Linked DNA regions of Homo sapiens: region 2 is linked to region 1. The links come from fine-mapping of genetic effects on gene expression. A gene starts in region 1. The other region holds a variant in brackets. All regions are shown on one strand. Distances are from middle to middle. Region 1 holds the start of LINC00511 (long intergenic non-protein coding RNA 511). Region 2 has its middle 9.5 kb from the start of LINC02003.

What was found. PIP is the estimated chance that this variant, and not a neighbour inherited with it, causes the effect.
Region 2: its variant is the best candidate, but not a certain one, in a credible set for the expression of LINC00511 in testis (GTEx, PIP 0.75).

The regions. Positions count from the first base shown.
Region 1 is chr17:72,638,326-72,643,700 of GRCh38, forward strand. It overlaps LINC00511 (long intergenic non-protein coding RNA 511), which reads right to left and starts at 2,147. Exons shown (of 5, transcript NR_033876.1): 1 at 2,046-2,147; 2 at 422-525. LOC105371887 (a long non-coding RNA gene) reads left to right here and starts at 2,350. Exons shown (of 4, transcript XR_934961.3): 1 at 2,350-2,393; 2 at 2,598-2,768; 3 at 4,303-4,504.
Region 2 is chr17:72,330,649-72,336,023 of GRCh38, forward strand. No RefSeq gene overlaps it. Among named protein-coding and RNA genes, the nearest start is that of LINC02003, 9.5 kb to the right of the region's middle. The variant A/G (reference allele first, on the strand shown) is at 3,066.

The sequences.
Region 1 (5,375 bases):
GCTCGAGTTGAGCTTTCACTCGCCGTCCACCACTGCTGTTTGCCACTGTCGTAGACCCACTGCTGACTTCCACCCCTCCAGATCCAGCAGGGTGTCCGCTGTGCTCCTGATCCAGTGAGGCGCCCATTGCCACTCCCGTTCGGGCTAGAGGCTTACCACTGTTCCTGCGTGGCTAAGTGTCCGGGTTCGTCCTAATCGAGCTGAACACTAGTCACTGGGTTCCATGGTTCTCTTCCATGACCCACGGCTTCTAATAGAGCTATAACACTCACCGCATGGCCCAACGTTCCATTCCTTGGAATCGGTGACGCCAAGAACCTCAGGTCGGAGAACAAAAGGCTTGCCGCCATCTCGGGAGCTGCCTGCCCCATCATGGGAGCGGCTCGCCACCATCTTGGGAGCTTTAAGGACAAAGACTCACCTGTAACAATGGCTCTTGTAATCAGTGAAGGGAGAGGCTAACTTGGCCTTAAACCCCACGGCTGGGTCCTCACCACGTCCAAACAGGCTGGATCTGCTCGCTCCCTGCCAGGAGGAGGGAGGCCAATGAGAAATGTATCATTGTGGCTCATAGTGCACCAGAGAATGGAGACTATATCAGAAAAGACCCCGCATGATTTCCAAGCTGATCTTTTAATCTGGGGGAGGATCACGGGCTGTGGGGATGCTGGGATACAGGTCCATAGGTTCACCCTCTACAAAGAATCACACATCTTTCCTTGGGCCACACAAAGCAGTTGCTCTTCTGTTACAGGAAAAGGGTCCTGATCCAGTCCCCAAGAGAGGGTTCTTGGATCTCCCGCAAGAATTCAAGGTGAGTCCAAAGTGCAAAGTGAAAGCAAGGTTATTAAGAAAGTAAAGGAATAAAAGAATGGCTACTCTGTAGACAGAGCAGCCCCAAGGGCTGCTGGTTGCCTATTTTTATGGTTATTTCTTGAAGATATGCTAAACAAGGGGTGGATTATTCATGCCTCTCCTTTCTAGACCATATAGGGTAACTTCCTGACATTGCAGTGGCATTTGTAAACTGTCATGGTGCTGGTGGGAGTGTAGCAGTGAGGATGACCAGAGGTCACTCTCGTGACCATTTTAGTTTTGGTGGGTTTTGGCCAGCTCCTTTACTGCAACCTGTTTTATCAGCAAGGTCTTTATGACCCATATTTTTGTGCTGACCTCCTATCTCATCCTGTGACTTAGAATGCCTTAACTGCCTGGATAGGCAGTCCAGTAAGTTTCAGCCTCATTTTACCCAGCTCCTATTTAAGATGGAGTTGTTCTGGTTCACATGCCTCTGACACTTCCAGCTCTTCCACCCACACACATCTTCCCTGTCTTGGGGCAGAGGGCAGTAGCCTCGTACCCTGAGGATTCTTGAAGGTCTGGGGTCCGAGCAGCTCCATCAGAAGCCCCATCGGGGACCTCTGAGGGGTCAGTGACAGTCCCTGGGGACAGACGGTGGCTCCCCAGGACGCTTTCCCTATTAAGCCACTGGCAGAGTCCAGACACTTTCACTGGGTTGAGAGCTAGAAGGTCAGAGAGCGGGAGAGAATCCAGAGGTAGGTTCAGGGTTACTGTTTTGCTCAGCCCTGGATGGCCAGGCCCAGCCTCCCGCATTCTACTGGAAGGAGGAGGAAGATGGGTTTAGTTCTTCCCAGGGCAGGAGAGAGAAGCACAATTGTGGGCTGGGTTCCTCCTGCCTCTGAACACAGCGCCATCCCTTCTCCCAGGTGCTGGGCTGGGGTGTGTGGAAGATGAAGGAAAAGTGAATTAACTAAATAGGGTTCCTGCAGTGTCTGGAAAGCCTCTAAACCCCCGAGCACCTCAGGCTTCCCTGCCCTGATTCAGAGGTGAGGTTACCTAAAAGCCAAGGAAGCCTGGGCTTCGGGGACCCTCACTCACAGGCCCCCTTCCAAAAAAGCCCTGCACCTAAGCTTGTACTGGGACTTCTGTATTATTTTTCCCAAAGGGCGCTCCCCACGTTGTATACACTTCCGGCCCCCAAATCTGGATCCACCCTGGGAAGGGACAAACTGGGGGCAGCCTACCCACATTCGGCCAGCGGGGGGTCCGACCGGCCTTGGTATCTCCAAGCGAGGTAACAGTAGTCGCCCCTTGCGTCCCTCCCCCTCCGGGGCGCATCGCCCCTTGCGTGCAAAGCCCCGGCACCGCCACGAGTCTCGCCTCGCCCTGCACAGGTAAACAGCCGCTGGCCGCCGGCCGGCCGCCCTGCAGGGCAGCCCGGGGACCTGCCCCCGGCGCCACGCCCGGCGCCCCGGGGAGGCCCAGCCCGCAGGCCCCGCCGACTGGGCGCCGCGCCCTGGGAACGTGCACCGGGGCAGGCAGCCCGGCCTCACCTGGCCCCAGCGCGGAGCCGGATCACACCTGCCTGCTGGGTGAGCCGAGGGCATTCGCGGAAGGGAAGAGACAAGACCTGGGAAGGGACGCCTGTGGCTTAGAAAGACCCTCAGGCAGGGCCGGGCGTGGGGCGCGCTGATAAAAATTCCTGGAGCTGTATTATTCACATCGCAGATTTGTCCCTTTGCCTCAATCTAAAAGGAATGGGAAAGAACAGCCGCTGGGCTCTCATTTGCTTCCAGCTTACACAGATTCAACTATCAATTATCCCAGAGGAGAGGCGTGCAGTGCAGGGCGTTGGGCCACGAAACTGAAAGCTGCTGGCGAGGCGCGTGGGGGAGGTCGATTTCTGCGTCCTGCTGCCTCCACGCACAGTGAGAACCCACCCCGCCACTGCGTTCCTGTCCTCACAGGTAAAGTCAGGATAATAATATCTACCTCACGGGGGATTCGAGGAAGTGGTGGGAGCGTAAAGCCCCGTCTGGTAGAGTGAATACCTGAGCAATGGCCTTCCGGTCCCGTCTTCAGCACAGCAGGACGAAAATGTCTTCTGTTGGGATCCCAGAGAAGATCCAGACGCTGACACCTGCCCCTACCTCTCTACTTCTCATCATACCGGTCACCTGGAAGAAGGGTCCATTCAAAGCAAAGCCTGTAGCCAATGAGTTGTTTCTGCCATCAAACAGTCAAGCATATGAGGCCCAATAGGCAGTCCTGTTTTTTTTGTGACAGAGTCTCACTCTGTCGCCAGGCTGGAGTACAGTGGCGTGATCTCGGCTCACTGCAACCTCCACCTCCCGGGTTAAAGTGATTCTCCTGCCTCAGCCTCCCGAGTAGCTGGGATTACAGATGCACGCCACCACGCCGGCTAATTTTTGTATTTTTAGTAGAGACGGGGTTTCACCATGTTGGCCAGGATGGTCTCGATCCACTGACATCGTGATCCGCCCGCCTCGGCCTCCCAACGTGCTGGGATTACAGATGCGCCGGCCAGGCAGTCCTGTTAAGCCATGCCACACAGCTTAAAAAAAGACACTGGCAAGCTCAAGTCCCGAAGTTACCAGCTGAAGGAAGAGACTTAAACCAAACCAAGGGCTTCCTATGACAGTTCTGAAATACCCTCTTCCCTCTTGAGTCCATACAACTGAGAAAATAGAACGGCCAGTCACCGTGGCTCGTGCCTGTAATTCTGGCACTTTGGTAGGCAGAGGCAGGCAGATCACCTGAGGTCAGGAGTTTGAGACCAGCCTGGCCAACATGGTGAAAGCCCGTCTCTACAAAAATACAAAAATTAGCCGGGCATGGTGGCGCATGCCTGTAGTCCCAGCTACTCGGGAGGCTGAGGCATGAGAATTGCTTGACCCGGGAGGCGGAGGTTGCAGTGAGCTGAGATCGTGCCACTGCACTCCAGCCTGGGTGACAGAGCGAGCCTCTGTCTCAAAAAGAAAAAACAACAACAAAAAGGGAAAACCAAAGGTAAAATTTGATCCACAGGACTGGCCACATTTCTACACTGGTAAAATCATGGCCTTGCTGAAGCATTGATCAGGAAGGGATAAGACCCAGAGAATCCAAATGGAGACAAATGAGAGGATTTGGAAAACCTGAAGTTCTCTGAATCACCCAGTCCTCAAAGAGCCTCCTTCGTCAGCGGAAACCCTCTTCTCCAGTCTTCTGACACACTTCGTAACGACACTGCCATTTCTTTGCATCCTTTGCAGTCTCACTGCAAGAGCAAGCCAGTTCTCATGCATTACCCTCGACTGTCTCCAGAATGGACAGTTAGATCCCAGCACTTCAGAAAGAAGGACAATGGCAAGCTCAAACCAGCGAGGATCAAGATTAGAAACCAACATGATTTTGGGATTTTCCTAACTAAGGGTGCTTAATAAATGGGTGGAAAGGTATCATTTTACACTGGTCTGATGTTGTTGATATACATTGCAGAGATTCTGGATTGACTGTGCTAGCAGGAGAAGCTGGGAGTGACTTCTGAGCTGGACTGACCACTGGACGCCAAGTGATTATCCCTAATGTATTACATGTCATTTGCAACCCAAGCTGTCCGTCATGTACTGGGCCATCTGACACACTCATAAAATCCCATTACCAACTGGAAATGGTTTATGTGGGACTAGCTCCTAACCAGGTACTGAAGGCACAAGTGCATTATATGCATAGGTAGATCATTCCCTGTGTGCCTACCCCTGACCCTTTCATCAATCTAACACCGGCCTCAAAGGGGTTTCCCAAGAGCTAGTGACTAAGAGAGGAAAAACCACTGATCCTCATTTACAGATAGCTTCACACCATATGCTTGCCTACCTTTTTTTTTTTTTTTTTGAGACGAAGTCTCGTTCTGTCGCCCAGGCTGGAGTTCAGTGGTGCGATCTCAGCTCCCTGCAACCCCTGCCTCCCGGGTTCCAGCAGTTCTCCTGCCTCAGCCTCCCGAGTAGTTGGGAATGCAGGTGGGTGCCACCACGCCCAGCTAATTTTTGGTATTTTTAGTTGAGACGGGGTTTCACTGTGTTAGCCAGGATGGTCTTTATCTTCTGGCCTCATGATCCGCCCACTTCGGCCTCCCTAAGTGCTGGGATCATAGGCGTGAGCCACTGCACCCGGCCCTACCTTCTAAATAGGTGACTGTGATGTTATAGTTCAGTGAGGATAGCAGGTGAGAGGGAGAACCTCCTGGGGAGGAGAATTTGAAGCACATAACTCTGTGTCCACTTTGCTTGGAAGCAAAGAAAATTTGATGCAAGAAGCTACACCAACTTCTGAGCAGTGTAGATGGGGGGTTCTGTTCAACAGGTCACAAACTTGAAAGAAGAATGACTGGAGGTTTAATGACAGAGGAGAGGTGTGGGAAGACATACATGGCTTCACTTCTCAGAATGGGCCAAATTTGAAAATGTTTGTTTCTTGAGTAAAACATCATCCAAAATACCCACTATAGCAAAAGCTAATAATAATTAATTGAACCAGGCCATCTGCTTATGTGTAATGATTTCTTTCTCCAG
Region 2 (5,375 bases), 310 kb before region 1:
AGTGAGAGAGTTATAGGATGACAGTGGCATTCCAAAGGCGTCTACTTCCTTGTCACTTTTCCCTACAAACACCTCAAATACAAAGTTGAGAACCACCAAGTGAAAATGGCCCACGTGGCAAGACAAGTCACTCATCCAGGGGTCCTCCCAATGACCTCTTCTGGCTTTTGGGTTTGATTCCCCTGACTGGTTTGATCTTACTATCATACTTTCTATTGCACCCAAGAGGCAGGCGCTGGCATTATTCAACTTTCCTTAGAGACCCAGCCATCCTGTTAAACAGTGATGAGGAAAGAGAAGAGAACAAGGAGACTTTGCATTTTAAAAATTAAAAGCTCCAATAGGTCATTTTGCTTAAAAGGAAATCTCTCGGCCGGGCGCAGTGGCTCACGCCTGTAATCCCAGCACTTTGGGAGGCTGAGGTGGGCGGGTCACGAGTTCAGGAGATCAAGACCATCCTGGCTAACATGGTGAAACCCCATCTCTACTAAAAATACAAAAAATTAGCCAGGCGTGGTGGCGGGCGCCTGTAGTCCCAGCTACTCGGGAGACTGAGGCAGGAGAATGGCGTGAACCTGGGAGGCAGACCTTGCAGTGAGCCAAGATAGCGCCACTGTACTCGGGCCTGGGCGAAAGAGCGAGACTCCGTCTCAAAAAAAAAAAAAAAAAAAAGGAAAGCTCTCTCACACCATAACCAAGGCAGAAAACATTTGTACCCAACGCTCACATCTACCTACAATCTCTGTTAGGCGGTTGCTCTGTGACTTACTTTTCTGCTCAATATTGACTTCAATGGATATTTTACTCTAATTTCCTCTGCATAGAAATGTTTGGTGATTGTCTTGCTGGAGGAAGGGTACATTGAGAGCCCATTGTGAATCTCACTGTCCATACCATCTTTCTATGAAATCTTGTTCAATAAACAATCATTAGGGGCAACATGGTGGACAGGAAGGCCATAGGATTAGAAGTCATTCATGCTCCCACATGGTAGGCATTTTCTCTGTAGAAGACAAGACTCAGTTTGAAAAGCATTTCTGTCACTCCCCAACTATGTGGATTACTTCATCTCTCCAGGCTTATCTTCCTTCTATTTGAAGGAAGAAAGGATGGCCAGGCGCAGTGGCTCACGCCTGTAATCCCAGCACTTTGGGAGGCTGAGGTGGGCAGATTACCTGAGGTCAGGAGTTCGAGACCAGCCTGACTGACATGGTGAAACTCCGTCTCTACTAAAAATAAACAAATTAGCCGGGTTTTGTGGCAGATGTCTGTAATCCCAGCTACTCAGGAGGCTGAGGCAGGAGAATCGCTTGAACCTGGGAGGCAGAGGTTGCAGTGAGCCGAGATCACACCAATGCACTCCAGCCTAGGCGACAGAGTGAGACTCTGTCCCAAAAAATAAAAAATAAAAAAGAGAAAGGAACAGGGTGGGAGTGGGAGGCATATATATGATCTCCATCATGCAGGGCTGTGAAGCTGGAACAGGGGCTATGTGATCACCTGTCACAGGGAAGGTGCTTAGAACATTCCATCCGCACTTCATTCTTGAAGCAAGAAACCATGCTAATAGCTCTCAGAGTTGCAGAGAAGGATGTTACCCAGCCCTGTCCCCCAAGTGCTGAGTCTTCAGGGAAAACATTTGTGTACACAGGTAATTCAGAATATTGGGCACATTGTGAAAGGTGCTGCCAGAACAAAGAGGAAGAAATTCATCCAAACAGCCAGTATTAGTAAAGGCTTCAGGGAGGAGGTGGCATTTGAGCTGAGCCTTGAAGGACAAGGATGGAGAAACAGCCAGGGCTTCCGGGAGGGAACCATGAGAGCACAGGCTGAAGACAGGAGGGGACAAGCATTTCAGGAAATGATGAAGCATTAAGGACAGTCAGGTGCAGACAGAGCCCAGAATGAGTGAGGCTTAAAGAACTGAAGGAGGCCAGATCATGACAGAGCCACAGATGCAGTGCTGAGATTGCATGGTTTCTTTTTTGTTTTGTTTTGTTTTGACTCAGAGCCTCGTTCTGTCGCCCAGGCAGGAGTGGTGCAACCATAGCTCACTGCAGCCTCCACCTCCTGGGCTCAAGCCATCCTCCTGCCTCAGCCTTCTGAGTATCTAGGAGTATAGGTATGTACCAACATGCCGGGATAAGCTTTTTTATTTTTATAGAGACAGAGGTCTCACTATATTGCCCAGGCTGGTCTCAAACTCCTGGCCTCAAACGATCCTCCTGCCTCAGCCTCCCAAATCACTGAGATTACAAATATGAGCAAGATTACATGTTATCATGGGGGAGGGGCGCATAAGATTCTCAGACCAGGAAATTACGTAATCAGAACATCATTTTAACACAGTGAACACACATCTCTGTCTGCCCAGGATAATCCACTGGCATAATTATCAATGGAACCCCCATTCACTCATAAAAGCACTTTCCTTTAGATGAAGAATTACATGATCACTCTCAGTTTAGATCACCCTGCTGTCCATGGGACACAGAAACCAGGGGCAAAAGGAGGCTGGACCAGAGAGCCATTCAGAGGCCATATCAACTATCCAAGCAGGAGGTAGGGACTTCCAAAGGCAGAGAACTCATGGGAAGGCAAAGTACTAGATCAAAGTACCAATTTGAAGGCAGATTCAACAAGACCGATTGATTACCAGACGAGTGATGGAGAAAGAAATAAGCAGACCCACTAGATGACTGACAGTTTAGTATCAGATATGGGGACTGGACAGGCTGAGCAGGACATTCTTGTGTAAGAGGGCAAGGAGCTGGCAATGAAAATCTGGAGCACAGAAGAGGCCAGAGCTGGAGATGTGGATTTGGCAGATGGCAGAATCCTGGGGACAATCATGGCTGAAGAGGGAGGGTGTGAGACCACCCAGGGAGAGGGTCAAAAAGATGACAGTGAGGGTACACTGAGATGATACTGAGACTTGTGCAAAAGAAAAGAAGATTCAGGGAGAAACAGGCTCATGGACACCTGTGGAGAAGAAGGTTTGGGGATGACTGCCAGGATCAACAGAGCCAGACGCTCCTGCAGGAGTGAGTAGGTTGGAAGAGGAC[A/G]ATGGGAAAGACCTTTGAAAGTTCCATTGCACCAGAACAGTGGGGCAGAGGCAAATTCAGTGGGTTGAAGAGGGAGTGGGAGGTAAGGAAGTGGTGTCAATAAGTACAGATGATTCTTTGGATAAATCTGTTAGTGAAAAGAAGGAAAGAGATGAGACTGTGGTTTGAGGGAATAATTTTTTTAAAAAAGAGGGGGCAGGGAAGCATTTGGGAAGTTAAATGTGGAAGTTGAACATATTTGAACACCGAGAGGAAGACAGTGGCAAGAAGAGGGGGTGTGAAGTTGCCAGAGATAACCATTTGGAATAAGGTAGGAACAGATGGCTTCTGCTCCAGTGGAGAGGCCATCCTTAGACAAGAGGTAGGACTCTGGAAGGAAGCGAGGCTGCACTTGGAGGGAGTGAATGCTGCAGGTGGTGGTGCCTATAGTAGTAGTATTATAACATCATTAGTAGTAACAATGAATGGTTAACCTTACTTTTTGTTTACATGCAAGTTCTCTGCATTGTTTAATCCTCACAACAGCCCCATTTTATATGTGAGAAAACTGAGCCCAAGAGAGGTTAATTAAGTTGCTCATAAACCACTGTAAAAATGCCAGAAGGTGGATTGAAATCCAGGTCTTTCCAATGGCATAGCCAGACTTGTGGGCCACTTGGAGTCAGTATAGACCAATGGCTCAGTCCTCTCAGTGAGCTGGAGGTGAAGTCATCTTCTGTGAATGATGGGGGTGGATGTGGAGGCCTGAGGAAGGAGGAGAAGAGTCGAAACAGCTGCTGGGAAGAATGCAGTAGGGATGAGCCAGAGAAAAGAGAGGGCACGGACAGCTTCCCAGGGGTACTGATAGTAGATTCCATCTCGTTCTTATCACCCTCATTCCCAGCCCCATTTCCTACCAGGGGCATGCACCCCATACTCTTCTCATTTATTTTGTGTCTTCTCTCCTCTAATCCCTCCATCAAAGGAAATAAGAGCCATGTGCTCAAGTGGAATGGGTCAGATTCTTCCCACTGCTGGAGGACTTGGTGATGGCCAGTGGGTAGAGCTGGGGAGGTGGTCCTCAGGGCCTTTGTCCCACCAAGAACACCCTTGGCCTGAAAGGCTTAGGGAAGCAAGGCATTCACCAGGCAACAGGGATTGCAGATGGAGTGTCTGGGAGCTGTGCCTCTGCGTTTAGAGGGCCAGCGTTGCTGTTTCTGCCTGGGCCCAGCCAATAGCAGAAGAGAGCTGGAGCCAAAGCACTTGTCCCAGGTGAACCAGCCATCTTCTATTCCATTAACAAGCCTGTTCATCCCGTGCGACCTCTTTCTACCAGAGATCTATTAATTTTAGCTAACAATCAGTGAAGAGGACACCATTTGATCCCAGAGCTTAAACCCATACTTCTTATTCACTGGTTTGACCACTTTGAAAATAGTAGCAGGATCAAATAGGCTGAGCCTCCCTCTTTGGACAGAACTTCATTGAATTGTAAATGGAAGGTGTTAGCCTTGGAGACAAGCTTAAAGATATGGTATTACTGCTTGTTGGATGTGGACCACCACTTATAAAAACCTACTAAGCCACTGGTCAAATTGATAGAATCCATACAGTACCAGAATCTAGAAAACATGGGGCTCAACTCAAATTTCCATAAAAGTGGCCAACAGGACCAGGGAATCGGCATTGAATTCTCAATGTGTGCTGACTTTCAGCCTCCAAATGTCATGGTCAACACATGGGGTCTCAGGATAGGACATCTGTGGGCTGGCAGGTTCCTGAAGCGTTTATTGGAATTTTCTTGGGACTCTTTTCCACAGTGCTAGAAACTGAATTGTAAGAAAGTAATCACAATGAATTCTTAATAATTGAGAAAAAGCACGGGGAAAATGATCACATCTGTTCAGACTAAAATGGAATCGTTTCAGGGAATGCAAGCCGACAACGCTCAATCTACATTTAAGGCGACTGTATTTGTAAGATTGGGGACAAGGAAGAGGGGAGAAGCAGCTCTTGAGAGAGAGAGTCCTAAATCTGTATATTCAGAATCCATGGGTGAATGTTTGGGAAGCAGTGATTTGTGTGTGTATGTGTGTGTGTGTGTGTGTGTGTGTATACACACGCACACATATAAGCACACACATTCTCACACACTCGAACCCACACACTCCAGGTTTCTGAAGAGCTGTATACCATTACCCAGTTCGAGTTGAAATGAACCCCGTGCCTCCCTGTAGCCCCTGTTTTGAGTTGTATTCTCCTATCATGGGCAGGAGAGTCTCCTGCAAACCCTGGCCACGGCGTCCTCAGTCCAACTCTCCAACAGATTAC